Regions from separate parts of the Homo sapiens genome. Here region 1 is linked to region 2. The links come from fine-mapping of genetic effects on gene expression. A gene starts in region 2. The other region holds a variant in brackets. All regions are shown on one strand. Distances are from middle to middle.

Region 1 (10,319 bases), 370 kb before region 2:
CCACTAACTGGTGGAGCTTGCTGAGCCATCGATATGGCAAAAGTCACTGTGACTTTATATTATAGATCCCTGTGTTCATCTCATTTTCCTATCCTAGATAACACTTTTTGAGCAGAGACAGTATTTTACATGTTTGAAATCACCAAATCACCTTATTATAGGCCAAAAACAGCCATTTCCAGCCTCTGCCTGCTGATAGTCTCTTGAAATAGACTCATCCCTTCAGAGTCCTAGTGTACTCTCCCTGTGACCCCAGCAGTGGCTACCACAAGGTCTTGTGCAAGAAAGATGGCCGGGAAGTATTTATTGAAAGAAATAATGGAATGAGAGAAAGAAAGTTGGGTGGGGGGCAGGGGCAAGGGGAAGCCAAAGGAGGAAAGGAGAAATAGGAAGAAAAATAAAGGGAAAGAAAGCCAAATATGCAGGGTCAACATTCAGGAGGGAAGCAGAGACAGGCTGAAGAATTGGAGGAAAAGAGCAAGAGAGAGAGACAGGGAGGCACACAAACCCAGGAAAAGGGAGACGATACTGAGAACGACGGGGCAGAAGGACAGACGGAGAGAGGAACGGCAGCAAGAGTGACAGCAAGTGAAAGGACAATGCATGTGGCTCAGTGCGCAGCCAGGGTACGAGGAGGCGGGAAAGTCAGGAGGATGTGCTATGTGCTGCTCCTGTTGTATTACTCAAACTTGCCCCTGCATTTTCTCTGACTGCCACTGCCTGCTTTGCTCAGGCTTCAGGGGTAAATACGGTAATTACACATAGGCTATGGCAGGAGCTTCCTAACCTGCTCTCCTGCCTTCTCTGGCCATCCCTCGGCCCACTTGCACACTCACACGTCTCTTAAGCCTTCCCAGGACAGGCCCCTGTCATTATTGCACTAAGGTAGGGGCCGGGCTTGCATGGGCTCTCCCAGGAAGGAGAGGCCCAGGGCTGCTAAGAATCGGGGACCGAGACTTTCAGTGCAGGAGGCAGGTCTTGGGTTCAAGACACAGGAGCCTGTATGAGAGAGAGAAAAGGAGCTTGTGAGTGTGTGTGTGTGTGTGTGTGTGTATGTGTGTGCACACGCGGGCACATGCATTCGTCATGGTTCACCCTTAATCCCCCCGGCCTGAAATAGCCTGAGCACCAGCCTGGCCTGGGGAGGGGTGTCTCCCCTCTGGAACATGATCCTCTGGATCAACATTCCAGCCGCCTGCCAGCTTTGTTGCAAACTGCTGGCTCATGGTTTTCCCTGTGTGCTAATCATCCAGCCTTGTGTTGCAAAGCGGGAGACATTTTTGTTTTCAACTTGGTATCCCCACTCCCAGATGCTATGCCGTGTCCTCCATCCAGATCGATGGGTTGAGCGTTTTCCTGCTCGGCCTTCGATTTCTCTGTGTGAGTCTTCTCTGCTGGGCAAAGTGGAGATGGGAAGTAAGGGAGACTGTTCTACCAAGCAGGGGACTAAAGCAGACTTTCAAAGACCTGGGCCACAGCTAGATTTTCCCCCTCCCTAGGAACCCATCCTGTGCTGCAGGCACCCAATGACACCCAGGCTTCCTACTCCTCAGAGCCCAGGCTTCTTGTGGGGGCAGGATCCTCTGTAAGGAGACTGGTTCTAGACCCTACTCTGGGTTCTCCTGTCCTTCCTAGAGGGCGCAAATGGAACCATTCCACTAGAGAGACACCTCACTCAAGTATTAGTTTGACCTGAAATTCATCCTTTTTTCTCTGTGGAGATTTAAGCCTCAGCTCTATTCCAGGCAAATTGGATTGAATCATGGTTCTCATTCAATTGCCAAGCGTTTGGGGGGCACTCACTGTATGTTCTGTGCTAGGTCCTGTGAGAACAGACACAAGCCATTGTCCAAGAGGAGCTCCCAGTCTCAGGGAGAGAGAGCCATGAGTCACAATGAGGATCTAGATAAATCATGTCAGCCGTGAAATGCTCAGGGTCAAGAGTACAGAGGAAAGGAGCAGCCAAAGAGATGGGGAGAGGAGCTGCAGGCAGGGATTCTGGATTGGGTGATCCACATGTGTGGCTTGAGGTTGCCCCAGTCTCAACTCAGCATCCTTCATCCTTCCTCAGAGGGGGACCAAGTCCCAGACCCAGCCCTCACACCTTCATGGCCAGTTTGTTCCTGCTCCACAATAGGATAAACAAACCTCAGTACAGAGTGGAGAGGACAACAGGAGGATTTTGCCCATTGTGATTGGAGAAGTTACAGATTCATTGGCCTTGGGAGGGCTTCCTCTGGGAGGTGGCATTTCAGGCAGGCTTGGTGAGAGTTGGTAGCCTATTTGGCAACCTTTATAAAGGTGAGTGTTTCCAATGTAGCAAGAAGTCTGAAAGAAGGCGAGAAACAGAGAGAGCCAATCAGAATCCCTAGAGAGGAGATGGGGTGAAGGGGGCTCATTCATTCACGCATCCTGCATCCATTCAGGCACCTCTGGAGCCTACTGAGTTCTGGGGATATAAAAAATGGATGCGACACAGTCCCAGGTCTCCAAGTGTAATGATGGAGTACCTTGAAGCCAAATGTGTGGGAGTTCTGTTTTGGGGCTAATAGTGGTGGCCGACTGCTAAAGACTTTAAAGGTAGTGGAGAATGTAGGCAACAGGGTCAGGGCTGGAGACACGCTGGAGACAAATCAATTGAGCAGCCACATCTTGTATTGGTCCAAGAAGAGCTGGCAGAAGGAGGGGAGACGGTGAACATTTATTGAGCTCCCCTCTGTCTCAAACATGGTGTGTACTAGGTGCTTTCCACAGATTATCTAATTTACTCTTCATGACAGGCTGCAAGGTACACATGATTTTCTCCATTTTACATCCAAGAAAAGAGAAGCTGAGAGAAGTGAAGACCCTGGCTCAAAGTCACACACCTAGCAAGTGCTGGAGTCCGGGATGGGCTACTCCAGAGCCCATGTTCTTCTTGCTACATGGGGATATGTTTTTGTGACACATGGGGAGAAGAATCAGGGGTCCTGGGACCTGGGTGGAGAGTGATGACCCTACCTAGCTATTGGTCAGTGGGGTAGGGACTACAGAGGAAGAAGCCAATTGCTACGAAGCAAGAATTTGGATTTGCTAGTAGACTGGAAGTAGGGAAATGAGAGGTACAAAGTTGAGGACATTCTGAGATGCTAGGCCCAGCTGCCAGATGCGACTCTGCAGCTCTGCGCCTCCCCAGCAGAATAGGAAGGGGGCTAATCAATGCATCCCCACCTGAGAAGGGTGGCACTTGCCTATTGACCTCTAAGGAATTTTGGATTTTCCAGATTGGCAGGGGGCGGAAGGGGTAGGGGGCCATCACCTCAGCCAGGACCCTAGAGGTTCTGCCCAGTGGCTAAGCATCCTGAGGACAGGACCAGGGAGAAGACTGGATGGGGCTGGGGTAGGGGGCAATCTACCCTGGAAAGATCACTACTTAGATGGACAGGGGGCATCCCTAGACTGAAGTGGAATAAAATGAGCCACACTGCCTGTCACAGGCATTAAAGCTGTCTCTTCTGCCGGTTCCTCACCCCCAGCCCTGCAGCCGTGGAGCCCAGAGACCAGAGGGTGGCCTTTGCCGCCAGGCTAGTGAAACCTGAGCGCTTCTCCCGCCTGAGAAGGAATGTTCCTTAAGAGCAGCAGCTGCTGCTTGTCCCCACAGGCCAGAACTGCCTTTCCCTTGAGACCAAGGCCCCCAACAGGAGTGGAACAAGAACAGGATTAGGTGGCTTGTTTACATGTGCTTGGCTTTCCCGAGTTTGGGAATCTGGCTTTTCTTGGTCTAAGACAGGGCCCTGGCTCTGCCAGAACGGAGGGATGCTGCCGGGAAGGGGTGTCTGGGGACAGGGACAACCTCTCCACCCTCCTAAGGCACATTTGCGCGGGCACACACACAAACACACACATCACACACACACAAACACACACACACCACCACACACAGGAATACACCCACAGCCTTAGGCCAAAGTCAGACCACACATGTATCTCGCATGTACCATGCACTTAACATTGCGCTAAGCAGTTTCGGGGAATTCAGAGAAAGACCCCTCTTTCCCTCAAAAAGCCTGCCACCAAGCTAGGGAAAGACGACGCCTGCATTAGAGAGAACCATTCTGTTGTGTCCAGTATGTAAGGCAGATGGGAGGCTTTGAAGAGTCCAGAGGACGGGCCGCGGCTGTGCCCTGGAGAGGTCAGGACAAGCTTTCCAGCAGAAAGGAGACATTCAGAACCGACCCCCACCCGCCCCGAGCCCAGGCAGGGGAGCCGCCAGCACGCGCCTTCTGGGAGGCTTTGGTGAGTGTGGTCTGAGCCGGTGGATCAGCAGAGACCTCTAGTGGCCGGGGGGAGGATGGCAGGTGGCTGGGGCTGGCTCCGCACTGCACCCCACTCCGGCCACCGACTCACCGTCACCCACCCTCCCACACAATCCTTAGGAAATGGCATGGGCTCTTTTACAGTCCTCAGCTGGAAGGATCTTTGCCAGGCCATCCCGTTCATTCCCCTGTTTCACAGGCATCCAAGTAAGATAAAAATTCCACCTATTTCAAAACAGCTTAAACAGAAACTTTTCTGTCATTTATCTCCTTCACTCCTTCATGTCTTTGTCCCATTCTGGTTTCTTCCAGGAATTCCTTCCTTGAGTGGAAATGAAGTCTTCCTTGAGTTTCCCAGGGCAGTTCAAGCCCTTTCCCTATTAAAAATGAAGCACGGTGGCTCACAGGGACAGACAGCTCTTCCTGGGCTGACGTGAGACCGCTGTGCATTCATGTGGGCCCCTGCACCCCCCACTTCCAAAAGTCATTCCACAGCTTCTCATCGTTTCTTAGTAAGGCCTTCCTTTGGAACAAGTCATCTTTCTGCTGTTCCAAATGCAATTTGGAGTAAAACTCCCCTGGGGACCACTGAGGTCTGTGAAGAATGAGTGGCAGTCGCAGTTCCAGGGTGTTGCAGCTGGCCCAGAGGATGGTGCTCGGGAGGCACCAGTTCTCTGCCATTCCAAACCCAAAGCCCTGCCTTGCTCTGCCCCTCCTGAGAGGCTCCTGCTTCTGAGTCTCAATCAACAGCACACAAGGAACAGGAGTGGGGCCGCTTCCAGGGGTGCCCATGGAGCCCGGCGTGTTGGTTTTCATCTGATTCCCAGGC[C/T]TCAGGCAGTTTCCAGAGGCTTGGGGACACCACGGCTGTCTTCCTAGTGGAACAAAACGAACAGAATTCTTGGGCTGGATAACCAGCTGTCATCCCCAGGTTCCTGGATAATTCCAGCAGGGATGTGAGGCTCTGGGTGCTGAAAAAAGTAACTAGAACCGTACCAAACACTCTTCTCACTTCCATCTGGGTGCTAAGGAGCCTAGAGGGGAGCAACTCTGTGTCTAGACACAGTGGCATCTACCTGGGTTTGGAGTCTGATAAGCCCTGAGGGGAAGCTGTCAAAAAGCTAATAATACTGTGTGCTTAGCCAACATGTGCTCCCCACGGGGTTTCCACCGCTGCTCTGGAAGTTCCTTCCTCAGAAAAGAGAGTCAGACCCTCCTTGTCTCCATTCCACGGCTCTAGAGACTAAGCCTGGACTGGAAATCGCAGCCAAGTGGAGTTGTGGGGCTAGTCAGAGACGATGCTTAGGATCCTGGGACTCGACCATTGCCCAGGAACATCTCAGACAGGGAGACATGTAGCCAGGTTTGCACAACTCTGCCTGCGTGCGCAACCCCAGCTGAACCCCTTCCATTGCTACGTAAAGAACTCAAGTGGCTTGAAGGCTTCTAGGACAGGTTTTTAAATCCCAACTGTACGACTCCCTAGTTGAGTGACCTTAGCCAAGGGAAGTGGGAAATAAATTATTGGATGGCTAAATGTGCCAGGCACTGTGCTTGCATTGGAGCCTGTCTGACCCCGAAGCACATATCCTCTCTCTGTGAGCACTCGTCCTACACTCAGAGCCAGAGGCCTTAGGCTGGAGGCACAGTTATTTGACTCTGGGAAGTCACTTCCATCCTCTCTGGACCTCAATCTCTCTTCAGGCAAATAGGACAGTCCTGCTGACCCCATGGGGTGATGGTGACATTAAAATGGAACAGCGTGGTGAAAGCTCTCTCATACTCAGCGTGTACGATCTTTGGGACCATCACAAGGAAGTTTTTAGAAATATAGATTGCTAGATGATGGGTGAGGGTCTTGACCCAGTGGCCCTGAGAATCTATGTCTAAAAAAAAAAAAAAAAAAAAAAAAAAAAAGCACACTCAAGGCAGGTTTGTGAAGCAGCTCATGTTTACAGATGTAAGGGATGAATATCATTTCCCCAGACCTCCGGGATGCCAAAATTTTGCTTCCTCTTCCCTGCCCCACCTAAAACGTTGCCAGTCCCAGCCCTGCCCTTGGACTCTATCTCTGAAGGTTTTTATTTTATTCCTTCACTGATAGAATCTGGCTGCCTCTCAGCACCTTCCAGCCAAAGACCCAGGGAAGGGAGAGAAGGGTAGGAAAGAGAAGGCTCTGATCCAATGCATAAATTGCCCTTAGTTACCCAAATTGGGTAAATTGGCATGGAGGGTATCCAAGCCACAAGGTGGAGAAGCAGCCAGGGTCTGAGTAAGCAGACGAAGCATCCAGGTGGTGGCTCACCCTCTGCCTTTGGCTAGGAAACAATGTGTGTTGGTTGAATCCCAAGGGACACATCTTGTATTTATTTTACTGACTTTGCTTGTATTTTTCTAACCTTGTTGGGTACTTTTTTGGGGGTGAAGAAAGTCTAGGACAACCTTTTATGTTTGAAATTCTCAAATATCCCTACCAGAAGAGGCACAGGCTAGCATGGATGATTCCAAACAAGGGATTGAGAAGTCACTTCCACTGGTTTTAAGGTGAATGGCATGGAGGTACCCACTCCCCCATTAAATTTACCTTCAAGCCTGGTGTGGTGGCTCACGCCTGTAATCCCATGACTCAGGAGGCTCAGGTGGGAGGATTACATGACCCCAGAAGTTTGAGACAAGCCTGGGCAACAGAGCAAGACTCTCTACCCTGTCTCAAAAAACAAACAAAAAAAAAAGTAAATTTACCTTCCGAGTTTGCTTCAGCTTCAAATATAATATCAGCACGGTTTACACACCATGAGAATGGTAGGCTGGGATGTTGGAACAAGGAGAACTCAAACTCAGAGCAGTCTCATCGCTGAAAACTCAGGCGTTGAGGGTCCCGGTGTCACATGCACTGTATACATAAGGAGATGAGGCCCACAGAAGGGTGGTGACGAGATTGCCTTTCCTCCAGTGCCCACGCTGCTTCTGGACTTCTGAGTTTTAGTTGTTTTTATCTGTTCACCTTGCCTGCAATGATGATTGGTTGACCTGCAGGATTCAAGGAGCATTTGCAGCCCAGAACCGGTGTAGGGGGCATTTGTGGGTGAAGGAGATCTGTGTTCTAGTCCTCTGGCTGCTAACGGGCTGTGTGGCCTTGGGAAGTCCCAGGCATCTCTAAACCTCAGTGCCTTATTTGTACTTCAGGGAGGGGAAATGTGTGGCTTCCAGGGGCTCTTCCAGTTTCTAGGCTTCTGCATGGCAGACTCCATTTTAGACTGCGACTGCAGGAACAGAAAGGCCAAGAGCTCTGCTCAAAGTATAAGCTTCACGGGCTAGGCGGCTCCCACGGGGCCCCAGGAAGGGGAAGCCAAGGCAAGAGCTGCCCCCTCTGTTCCCCAAGGTCACAGCAGCAGAGGTGAGCTCAGAATAGAAGCAAGGCCTCCATCGCCCCACCCACCCGGAGGAGCCACACCAGGAGGCCCGTGCGGCAGGTGGGTGGGAGGAGGGCGTGCTTGGCTCCTCTCCTCCTGGCGCTGCTTATTTATAGGAAATACTCCTCCAGCTCTTGGGCCAGAGACAACCCAGGAGAGTAAAAAAAGGCAGCTCTGGAGGAGACGCCAAGGGGGATTTAATCAGCTGAATCGAGTGAGATGTATAAATCAGTGCCGACTTCCACTTCCTGACAGGCTCTGCCAGGTTCTGTGTTGTCAGGGTCTGGGAGGAGATTCGCCATGGCTGTCCCCCGGGCTGTAACACTTTCCCTTCGTTGCTACAGGTAGGCAGTCACTGGCTCGAGGTTTCCTCCAAACACAGATTTCCGGGCTCAAAACCCTAGACTTGCCCTGGAGGCTGAAGACCCAAGCTTCTTCAAGTCCTAAAACAAAAACCGGGAAGCTGGGGCCTTCTTTTTTGCCCCATTTTGTCTATTTCCTTGACCATTTACCTGTCTCTAAATCCTTGCAGTTCACGCCTTACGATTCCAGCATTTGAGCATGGGAATGTCGCCGAAATGGCCATTGGACCTGTTAACTGGTTCAAGCCCCGTCTTCAGATGAGGAACCGTGGCTAGGAGGAGCTAAGAGACTCAGGCAGGCCTCCTGAGGCTCCCACACTTCACTCGCTGCCTTTTTTCTTCTCCGAACCTAGAGACCCTAACCTCTCCCACATCCTATTCCTTCCTCACAAATTCTCTCCAAGCACCCAGCCTCCCAGTGCAGGCTCCCCAGAAAGCAGGGAGGGCTCCACAGCAAGTCCAAGGACTTCTTTACCCAGCTGTTAACTAGGAATGGTGAGGAGAGCAGAGGGCCAGGAAAACATGTCTTACCTGCCTGGGCTAACGCAAAGAAAAGCGGCAAAGGTTCCGTGCTGGTCGGCAGTGTGGGGAGAGGAGAGTCTGTTTCCAGTGGAATCCTGTGGGCAGCCTGAGGAAGAGAACAGGATCGATGCCATGTGCCGAAGGTGGCTGAGGCTCATATGAGACACCCTTAGAAGACAGGTTATGGGAAGGCTAGGGCGGCTTTCATTTGCTTATTTAACATGTATTTTAGTATCCTGAGCTAGGTGCTAAGGATACAAAGGTGAGAGCTGGAGGCTGCTCTGTGTGTGCAGCCTAGTGTGACAGGCCTGTGATGGAGGTGTGTGGAGAGCAGCCGGGGGACGGGAAAGCATCAGGAGACAAGCGTCGCTGAAGGATGAGCAGGTGCCGACCAGGTGAAGCCATTTTCTCAGACCCGGCTGACAGTGGAATCACCTGGGGAGCTTTTAATAACCCGGAGCCCATTGAATATGATGGATCTGATCAAGAAAAAATCCAGAGCCCAGGACACACTCCTGAACAATTAAATGAGACTCTCTGAGATTGGAACCCAAGCATCATTACTGGAGATTTCAAAGTACAGCCAAGGAGGAGACCATGGGGGTTATCAGATAATTTGTGCCTTAGGTTTTCAGGGCAATGGAATGGTTAAATGGGTGACTCTTTTTGTTTTTGTTTTTTTTAATTGAGCCTTCTTATTCACCCTTTCTAGGAAACCAAGAGAGTTGCCTTCTGGACCTGGGTCTGGGGAGGAGCTAGAAGGAGGGAGGGGGGCAGGCAGGAAGGGGAAAGGACGGAAGAGGACTCTGGGGCTGTAGGGTCTAAGCTCTCAGTGTCATTGTCACAAACCACGCCTCCCTCACTGCCAGGACCTCCTGCAGAATTCCCCCAATTCCATGTCCGGAGTCTCCAATAACCCCCAGGGGATTGTGGTCCCAGCCTCAGCGCTCCAGCAGGGCAACATCGCCATGACAACCGTCAACTCACAAGTTGTGTCAGGTCGGTGCAAAGACTGGGAAGGGTGATTGTGGGAATTCCCTGGGAGGAGAAAGGGTGGCCCCGAGGCGGTTCCAGGGGTGGGGGTTGTCCTCCACCGAGGGAGGGGCTCCCAGCTCAGTTTCTTGACTAAAGTTTTCTGTAAGTTTATAGACGGTTAGCGCCAAGACCCAATTGTGATGGTTTAGAACAAATTTGGGTCAAAATCTCATGAGCCCCTGAGAGGACCAAGTAAGGCTGTTGTCCCTTCCCCGAAGCACCTCCCACCAGAGGCTCTGTCCTAGGCTCTAGACACCATCCCCCACCCACCCATAAAGCAGAAAGCCATAGCTCGCTACCCAAGGGCTCCAAGTAGAGGGTCTTTACACATGAGTGCCAAATGAACTGGGAACCCTGCTTGCCCTCGCTCCTACCCACTCCCATGGCAGGGGACCCCAAAACTGGTTGTCTCCTCAGGTGGAGCCTTATACCAACCGGTTACCATGGTAACCTCCCAGGGTCAGGTGGTCACCCAAGCAATCCCCCAGGGAGCCATCCAGATCCAGAACACACAGGTGAGTGTGTGTAGGTGTGTGCACATGTGCATGGTGTGGGCTAGGGCACCTGTAATCGCTTCTTATCTGCCAGGCACTTTACACGGGTGACTCATTGAATCCTCATCATCCTCTAAGAGGTATCATTACCCCTACTTTACAGATAAGAAGCTGGGTCTTGGAAAGGTTTTATCAACTCCT
Region 2 (10,120 bases):
TTTATGCATTCATCTTGTATTCATGGTAATTTATTTTAACCTTTGGGCTCATTTATTTTGTCATTCAAATTGATCCAGTTTGGGCCATGGGGAGATCTCTCTGTTTGTTCCTATTTCCCTCTGATATACTCCCTCAGATTTACAGGCTCATCTTCTCTTCATTTAATTTCCTGCCCCAGTCCTACAATCAGCCATTTCTCCAAGGACTTCTGATTTCTTTTTTTTTTTTGAGAATGGTATTAGAAACCACAGTCTGGGTGCTAGGGGTACTCATTACTATTGTTATTGTTATTTGACAGAGCAAGGAAATATATGTATGTATAATAACTCATAAATATACATATTTATAAATATTTCTTTTATATACATATTTATAAATAATCTGTATTTATATTTAACTAAATATGAATTCATACTGATGTCTAATTCATTACCTCATTGATCATTCTAGCACCTTTCTCTTGCTTATCTGTAACTTCTAACTCCAACAGTGAGAAACCTGGATTCCCCCAGCCCCCATTCATTTGCTTAGGAGTTCAATTACAGTGTACCTGTAGAGCAGTATCAGAATTATTAACCTATAACCTTGGGGAAAACAATTTTATCAAGTAGAGTGCAGAGCTTGTGTACATTTTCTTTTGCCTTTAAGCTTACAGGCTCCACTCATTTACAAAGTTACTCAGATCAGAAACTTTTCCCCCAACTCAACTCAGAGAGATTGTTTCACACATTTGTAACAGTTACATCATTTTTGTCACATTGTGCATTCCTTCCTGGAATCCTCTGACTTCCTAAATGATTTTTCTTTTAATTCTCATACATTGTTTCATTCTTTGTGCAGTAAAGTTCTATGGGGTTTGACAAGTGCATAGTGTCATGTATTTACTGGTATAGTATCATACAGAATAGATTCATCACCCTAAAAAATCTTTTATACTTTACCTATTCAATCCCTTTTTTCCTCTTAATCCACTGGCAGTCATTGATATTTTCACCAACCCTATACTTTGGTCTTTTACAAAATTGGAATCAGAGTACACATGTTCCCAGACTTACAATGATTTGACTTACAAGTTTTTTAAACTTTAAGATGTGTGAAAGCAATAAGCATTCAGTAGAAGCCATACTTTAGTACCCATACAAGCATTCTGTTTTTTACTTTCAGTAGAGTAGTCAATAAATTACATGAAATACTCAATTACATGAGATACTCAAAGCCAATTATAAAATTGGCTTTGTGTTAGATGCTTTTGCCCAACTATAGGCTAATGTAAACATCCTGAGCACATTTAAGGTAGGCTAGGCTAAGCTATGATGTTTGGAAGGTTAAGTGTTTTAAATGCATTTTCAGTTCACAGTATTTTCAACTTGCAATTGTTATAACAGGATATAACCCCATCATAAGTTGAGGAGCATCTGTATGTAGCCTTTTCAGACTGGCTTCATTAACTTAGCAATATTCATTTAAAAATGTATCCATGTCCTTTCATAGCTTGATAGATCATTTCTTTTCATCATTGAGTAGCATCCCACTGTTTGGATGTACCATAGATTACATATCCATTCACTTATTGATGGGCATCTTTATTGCTTCTAGTCTCAGGCAATTATGAATAAATATGATTTTAACATTTGTGTGCAGGTTTCTGTGTGGGCATAACTGTTCAAATTGGTTGAGTAAATATCTAAAGGCATGATTACTGAATGACATAGCAAGAGTATAATCACCTCTCTAAGAAACTACCAACTGTCTTCCAAAACAGCATTACCATTTTGCATTCCTGCCAGCAATAAATGAGATTTCCTATTGCTCTATATCTTTGACAAAAATTGCTACTGTGAGGGTTTTTTATTTTTTTGATTTTGACCATTTAAAATGTATAGTTGCGTAATATTGTTGTTTTAATTTGCAATTCCCTAGTGAGATATGATGTTAAGCATATTTTCATATGCTCATTTACTATCTGTATATCTTTTTCTATTCAGATTTTTTGGCCAATTTTTCTGGCCTTTATTTATTTATTTATTTTTTTATTTTACTTTAAGTTCTGGGATACATGAAAGAAAGTGCAGCATGCAGGTTTGTTACATAGGTATACATGTGCCATGGTGGTTTGCTGCACCCATCAACCCGTCATCTAGGGTGCAGTCAGCCTTATAAGGACAGAAACACCAGGGTTAGTGTGTATCCAAGGAAAATGTGCCACCTTGGCCACAGGTGTGCTCCAACATCAATGCTACTCAGTTTCTCTTCCTATCTGTTTCTGTGTCTTCCTTCTTCTCTTCCCACCACTGTTACCCATATATGCTACCTTTCTCACACTTTCTGCAAACTCATAACTTCCTCTTACACAGGGCACTCTGTTACTTGAACACTACCTCATGGTATCTATTTACATCCTATTATCTTCAACTACTACACCACCTGCCACATTATCAGCATTTTGTTTGCTCAGTCCCATGAGAAGAACCTGACTAGCCATCCTTAAAAAAACACTCTGTTCCCAATCCAATCACCTAGTTCAACCATGTGCCCAAGGCTGCCTGGCCAGCCAGGGCAATGATAATTCAAGCCAATTCCACCCACAGCAAGTTATTTCTCAGATCTTAGTTTTTACCAGTTGAAATGCCCCCTGAAGTTTTCTTTGATGCTCATCCCTATGTCTGTTCAGTTTTTTTTTTTCTGCCCTGAGGTTCCCCCAAGAGCTCTATCAGAGAAAGACTTGGCCCATGCTGCCAACACACTGGGAAGCTGGGGTTAGCCCTCTCCAGAACCCACGGGCAGAAAAGGACAGTGCCAGAAAGTGTCAGGGCTAATCCAAAGAGAATTCCAACGGAGAGGAGTGTGTGTGTAGATGAGGATAGAGGATAGTCACAGAATTCTCAGTACAAATTGGAGATTATTATGGCCCAAGTGTTCACATTTTCATACAGGAGATAATAAATGACCAAGTCTGAGCTTATTCATGGCAGTATCACGTAAGGAGAGCAAAACCCCTCCCACCTGTTAGCGACAGGGATGTGCAAAGAGTGAGTCTAGTGCTCCATCATCAATAGGCTCCGCTGTCCACACTGCGTCTCCTTATGCCTGCTTGTCTTTTCACTATGAGCTGGCTTTCTCACTCTCTACCAATGCATAGAAGAGGAGAGCAAAATTCAGGTTCAGGGAAGAGAAAAAGAGCGTAGTGGTTGAAAAAGAACCCAAAATCCAGGAGAGACGTAGAACTAAACTCCCTCAGGGAGGTTGCAGTAGTTACTATGATCACAACAGATGAGCTCTACCCTCTTCGTGAACCCCAGGAAGTTGATGTCCTCACAGCTGGTCATACACGACAGTTTTGAATAATGATACATGCTCTGCCCTGAGGAGGTAAAAGAGAGGAAATATGATCATAATGACCTCATTTCCTTTTACTGCGTTCCTAGGAGTAATCTGTTTTTGTGTCCTCACTAACCTTTCTCTAGGCCCAAATGAGTTCCAAAGCTGAGTCTGTTAATTGCTGACCCAGAGAGTAGATTTTATTCCCTGCCAGGTAAGGGACATCAGCCTCTTTTTCACTCAATATGGTCTTAGGGAAAAGTCTGTCTTTGCCATCCCCTCAAGACCACCCCATACTCACCCATCCCATTCACCTACTCACGCTGAGGGCAAAAGAACACTACTGTTTCTCAGGGATGGTGGTGGTGATTTTCCAGTCACTCTATACTCCACATTACCTTTCCTTGTAAGGATGTAAAAGTTCTCAACTGCACAGGACTGTTTATGCTTCAGGGAGCAGGATGTCATGACACCATAGCATAACCCAAGATGATATTTTTTACATTCATAACACATTATTTCAGTCGCTGCCAGATACAAAAAGAGGTGCTTAGAGGATGCAGTCTTGAGAATATTCTCTGGGGCTGGGGGCTTCACTACAGGACCTTATTCTTGCCTAGTGGTTCCTAACATTTTTTGGACCATGGACTCTTGGTAATCTTGAGAAAGATAGGGATAATCATGCTGCGGTCCTCCCCATGTACACATTAATAAATTTGTACACATTTTCTCCAATTAAAAAAATCTTGTGAAAGATAACCTGTACAAACATAAATCAAACACTGTATATGATTTCAGGAGGTCAGGGTTCCCATGAAATTTATCCATGGACCTCCAGTAATGAACCCCTTATCTAGCCTGATGATTTTGCCGAGTAATGGGTAAAAGAAAGTAAAGTGGATCTTAGCCTCCTTACTCTAAGAAATGGACAAAACAGGTCTGGCAGGAGGCGAAACCCCTAGGATTCTATAATAAGAATGGATTACAGGCCTCTCTGAAGATGAAGGAAAGGTTTGCTCCTAAACATGTCACAAATTGCCTGTTTACCAAGGACTTCAGAGAAGCCATGATTGTACCTTTTATAGGGTCATGAAGTTCACCTGTGAAAAGAAGAAAAACCTTCCATGTTACAGTCTCACATACATCTGCCACTGCCCCAAGAGCCAATTTTGAAAACTTTCTCTTCCCCCAGCATCTGTCCGTCTCTTAACCAACCACCAGCTTCCCCTCTGTCTCCAGGACTTACCCCAATATGGGCAGAGCAGAAAGACTGTGCCCAGGAGAAAGAGAACAAGCATCCTGGAGCTTCTGTCAGGTGCAGCTTCCTGTGGAAGGAGCAAGTTGTTCTCTTGTGATCTGTCCTTGGGCTAGTCATCTAAATTATATAATCATAAAATTTCAGGGACAGGCAGTATGGCAATGTTCCAAGCCAAACCACCATATCTGATTGCTGCACAGCATTCTAAAGAGGGTACTCACTTTGATTTTGTGCAAATCCTCTAATGAAAATGAAATGGTAATGTTCCTGATTCACCAGACCTGCTCCTACTTCAATATTGCAGAGTTTTAAAAAGTATTTTCAACTTTCATTTTAGATTCAGGGGGTACATGTGCAGGGTTGTTACAGGGGTATATGGCTTGATGCTGAGGTTTGGGGTACGAATGATCCCGTCACCCAGGTAGTGAACATAGCACCCAACAGTTATTCAGTCCTGCCCAGTCTCTCCTCACAATGTTGCAGGTTTTAATACATCTGGGAGGTGTTCTTTACATCTTCTTGTGTTTCATCCTCATTGAGCAATCTAACAGCAAGTCTTATCCATTCTACCTACTAACTTCTCACATGGGTTTATTATTCTCTGTCGCCACTGCCATTACCATAATCCAGTCTATTATGTCTTGCCTGGACCAAGCAATGGCCTTATTTCTGGCCTCCATGCTTCTCCTCTGCCCCTTCATAATCATTTCTTCATAAAGCAGTCAGAGAACAAGTCATAGATGCCACACCCCTGCTGAAAACACTCTGACGACTTTTTATTACCTTTGAAAGAAAATCCAGAGTTTTTATCATAGCCGGCAATGGCTTTGTCATTATGAGCAATGGCCTCCCCTCCAATCTCCTTTCTCTCCACATTTCCCTGGCTCACTCAGGTCTTTGCTCAAATGTCACTCCCTCAGACAGAGCAGCATTTTCTGCTTAATCTCTAGAAAATGACAGCCTTCATTTCCTACCTTTTTCCCTGTGGTATGTTTCATTGCAATTCTAATAAGCTGATCTTACATTGCTATTGGCTCACTTTTTTACTCCTCCACTAGAACAAAGCAAGGGGTTTCTTTGGTTTATCATGGCACACTTGGCATCTAGAGGCTGGGAACAAAGGAAATGCCCAACAAATATTTGTGGGAGGAATTAATAATGTTCTTCCCATATCCTGCCTTGCATCCCTCCAGTCCATTCTCCACAGAGCATCCAGCTTTATCAGACTGGTTTTTTGAACTATAATAAAGACAAGAAATGAGACTTTCTACATTCCAGCAAGGGTCCCAAGATAGTAGGTAGCAAGTGTTTCACATTTCAAAGTGAAATGCTATGCTACTTAGGCAGATTTACAAAGAAAATCAATGAAACCGTGTTTAATATCCTGGACTTGCTGCCCACCTGGAGGGTATAAATGAACAGTGAAGTGCCAGAAAATAAAATGGAAGGAGTTTCTATAGTCTAGTGTGAGGGTTACTTTTCTATATATGGCTCAAAAAACAGAACCATAAAAAAGATATGTTTATCTATATTTTTAAAAAATCTTCTACATAGATGGAAAACCAATCATTAATCCATAAGCAAAGACCAAATAACAAATAAACCATTAAAAATATTTGCAACTCATATCTCAGACTAAGGGCGAATCTCCCTATTATACAAAGATATTCCAGAAATTGATTTTTAAAAGATTAACAATTCAAAGGGGAGAGACGCAGTCAATAATAATGTCATAGTTCACAGAAAAAAGAAACAGAAATGCTTCTTAAACACATGAAATATGGTGAACCTTGCTCCTAATTTTAGGATATTAGTTTTACTTAACAGATTTGCAATAATCAGAATTTAGTAACACAACTGTGTTGGCAAGATGGAGTAAAATGAGCACTGTCATACATTGCTGATGGGGCTGTAACTTAATATATCAGTAAGGAATAAAATTAGACAATAGCTCGTCAATTTTATATCTTTCCTGCTTTCTCTTGTGGGCATTTAGTGCTATAAATTTCCCTCTACACACTGCTTTAAATGTGTCCCAGAGATTCTGGTATGTTGTGTCTTTGTTCTCATTCATTTCAAAGAACATCTTTATTTCTGCCTTCATTTCGTTATGTACCCAGTAGTCATTCAGGAGCAGCTTGTTCAGTTTCCTTGTAGTTGAGTGGTTTTGAGTGAGTTTCTTAATCCTGAGTTCTAGTTTGATTGCACTGTGGTCTGAGAGACAGTTTGATATAACTTCTGTTCTTTTACATTTGCTGAGGAGTGCTTTACTTCCAACTATGTGGTCAATTTTGGAATAAGCGTGATGTGGTGCTGAGAAGAATGTATATTCTGTTGATTTGGGGTGGAGAGTTCTGTAGATGTCTATTAGGTGTGCTTGGTGCAGAGCTGAGTTCAAGTCCTGGATATCCTTGTTAACCTTCTGTCTCATTGATCTGTCTAATGTTGACAGTGGGGTGTTAAAGTCTCCCATTATTATTGTGTGGGAGTCTAAGTCTCTTTGTAGGTCTCTAAGGACTTGCTTTATGAATCTGGGTGCTCCTGTATTGGGTGCTTAAATATTTAGGATAGTTATCTCTTCTTGTTGAATTGATCCCTTTACCATTATGTAATGGCCTTCTTTGTCTCTTGATCTTTGTTGGTTTAAAGTCTGTTTTATCAGAGACTAGAATTGCAACCCCTGCCTTTTTTTGTTTTCCTTTTGCTTGGTAGATCTTTCTCCATCCTTTTATTTTGAGCCTACATGTGTCTCTGCTCGTGAGATGGGTCTCCTGAATACAGCACACAGATGGGTCTTGACTCTTTATCCAATTTGCCAGTCTGTGTCTTTTAATTGGAGCATTTAGCCCATTTACATTTAAGGTTAATATTGTATGTGTACATCACAATTGAAAGAACTAGGGAAGCAAGAGCAAACACATTCAAAAGCTAGCAGAAGGCAAGAAATAACTAAGATCAGAGCAGAACTGAAGGAGATAGAGACATAAAAAACCCTTTAAAAAATCAATGAATCCAGGAGCTGGTTTTTTGAAAAGATCAACAAAATTCATAGACCACTAGCAAGACTAATAAAGAAGAAAAGAGGGAAGAATCAAATAGACGCAATAAAAAATGATAAAGGGGATATCACCACCAATCCCACAGAAATACAAACTACCATCAGAGAATACTATAAACACCTCTACACAAATAAACTAGAAAATCTAGAAGAAATGGATAAATTCTTGGACACATACACCCTCCCAAGACCAAATCAGGAAGAAGTTGAATCCCTGAATAGACCAATAACAGGCTCTGAAATTGAGGCAATAATTAATAGCCTACCAACCAAAAAAAGTCCGGAACCAGACGGATTCACAGCTGAATTCTACCAGAGGTACAAAGAGGAGCTAGTGCCATTCCTTCTGAAACTATTCCAATCAATAGAAAAAGAGGGAATACTCCCTAACTCATTTTATGAGGCCAGCATCATCCTGATACCAAAGCCTGGCAGAGACACAACAACAAAAAAGAGAATTTTAGACCACTGTCCCTGAGGAACATCAATGCAAAAATCCTCAATAAAATACTGGCAAACCGAATCCAGCAGCACATCAAAAAGCTTATCCACCACTATCAAGTTGGCTTCATCCCTGGGATGCAAGGCTGGTTCAACATATGCAAATCAATAAATGTAATCCAGCATATAAACAGCACCAAAGACAAAAACCACATGATTATCTCAATAGATGCAAAAAAGGCCTTTGACAAAATTCAACAGCCCTTCATGCTAAAAACTCTCAATCAACTAGGTATTGATGGGATGTACCTCAAAATAATAAGAGCTATTTATGACAAACTCACAGCCAATATCATACTGAATGGGCAAAAACTGGAAGCATTTCCTTTGAAAACTGGCACAAGACAAGGATGCCCTCTCTCACCACTCCTATTCAACATAGTGTTGGAAGTTCTGGCCAGGGCAATCAGGCAGGAAAAAGAAATAAAGGGTATTCAATTAGGAAAAGAGGAAGTCAAATTGTCCCTGTTTGCAGATGACATGATTGTATATTTAGAAAACCCAGTCATCTCAGCCCAAAATCTCTTTAAACTGATAAGCAACTTCAGCAAAGTCTCAGGATACAAAATCAACGTGCAAAAATCACAAGCATTCCTATACACCAAAAACAGACAGAGAGCCAAATCATGAGTGAACTCCCATTCACAATTGCTTCAAAGAGAATAAAATACCTAGGAATCCAACTGACAAGGGATGTGAAGGACCCCTTCAAGGAGAACTACAAACCACTGCTCAACAAAATAAAAGAGGACACAAACAAATGGAAGAACATTCCATGCTCATGGGTAGGAAGAATCAATATCGTGAAAATGGCCATACTGCCCAAGGTAATTTATAGATTCAATGCCATCCCTATCAAGCTACCAATGACTTTCTTCACAGAATTGGAAAAAACTACTTTAAAGTTCATATGGAACCAAAAAAGAGCCCTCATTGCCAAGACAATCCTAAGCCAAAAGAACAAAGCTGGAGGCATCACACTACCTGACTTCAAACTATATTACAAGGCTACAGTAACCAAAACAGCATGGTGCTGGTACCAAAACAGAGATATAAACCAATGGAACAAAACAGAGCCCTCAGAAATAATATCACACATCTACAACCATCTAATCTTTGACAAACCTGACAAAAACAAGAAATGGAGAAAGGATTCCCTATTTAATAAATGGTGCTGGGAAAACTGGCTAGCCATATGTAGAAAGCTGAAACTGGATCCCTTCCTTACACCTTATACAAAAATTAATTCAAGATGGATTGAAGACTTAAATGTTAGACCTAAAACTATAAAAGCCCTAGAAGAAAACCGAGGCAATACCATTCAGGACATAGGCATGGGCAAGGACTTCATGACTAAAACACCAAAAGCAATGAAAACAAAAGCCAAAATTGACAAATGGGATCTAATTAAACTAAAGAGCTTCTGCACAGCAAAAGAAACTATCATCAGAGTGAACAGGCAACCTACAGAATGGGAGAAAATTTTTGCAATCTACTCATCTGACAAAGAATCTACAAAGAACTCAAACAAATTTACAAGAAAAAAACAAACAACCCCATCAAAAAGTGGGTGAAGGATATGAACAGACACTTCTCAAAAGAAGACATTTATGCAGCCAACAGACACATGAAAAAATGCTCATCATCACTGGCCATCAGAGAAATGCAAATCAAAAACACAATGAGATACCATCTCACCCCAGTTAGAATGGCAATCATTAAAAAGTCAGGAAACAACAGGTGCTGGAGAGGATGTGGAGAAATAGGAACACTTTTACACTGTTGGTGGGACTGTAAACTAGTTCAACCATTGTGGAAGACAATGTGGAGATTCCTCAAGGATCTAGAACTAGAAATACCATTTGACCCAGCCATCCCATTACTGGGTATATACCCAAAGGATTATAAATCATGCTGCTATAAAGACACATGCACACGTATGTTTACTGCGGCACTATTTACAATAGCAAAGACTTGGAACCAA

Direction of the effects. Positions count from the first base shown, and alleles are read on the strand shown. Sizes are in standard deviations (SD) of each study's normalised expression.
For the expression in cerebellar hemisphere of the gene that starts at base 4,672 in region 2, C is the low allele of the variant in region 1 and T is the other (moderate effect, 0.44 SD a copy in GTEx).

The links. PIP is the estimated chance that this variant, and not a neighbour inherited with it, causes the effect.
Region 1: its variant is fine-mapped to the expression of PATE2 in cerebellar hemisphere (GTEx, PIP 0.97).

What each region holds. Positions count from the first base shown.
Region 1 is chr11:125,400,738-125,411,056 of GRCh38, forward strand. It overlaps PKNOX2 (PBX/knotted 1 homeobox 2), which reads left to right. Exons shown (of 13, transcript NM_001382323.2): 8 at 9,459-9,588; 9 at 10,042-10,139. Among named protein-coding and RNA genes, the nearest start is that of FEZ1, 90 kb to the right of the region's middle. RefSeq lists an enhancer at 8,017-9,216. The variant C/T (reference allele first, on the strand shown) is at 5,125.
Region 2 is chr11:125,774,157-125,784,276 of GRCh38, forward strand. PATE2 (prostate and testis expressed 2) reads right to left here and starts at 4,672. Exons shown (of 4, transcript NM_212555.3): 1 at 4,566-4,672; 2 at 4,396-4,419; 3 at 3,718-3,846; 4 at 1,957-3,362. The coding sequence starts at 4,617. The coding sequence ends at 3,226.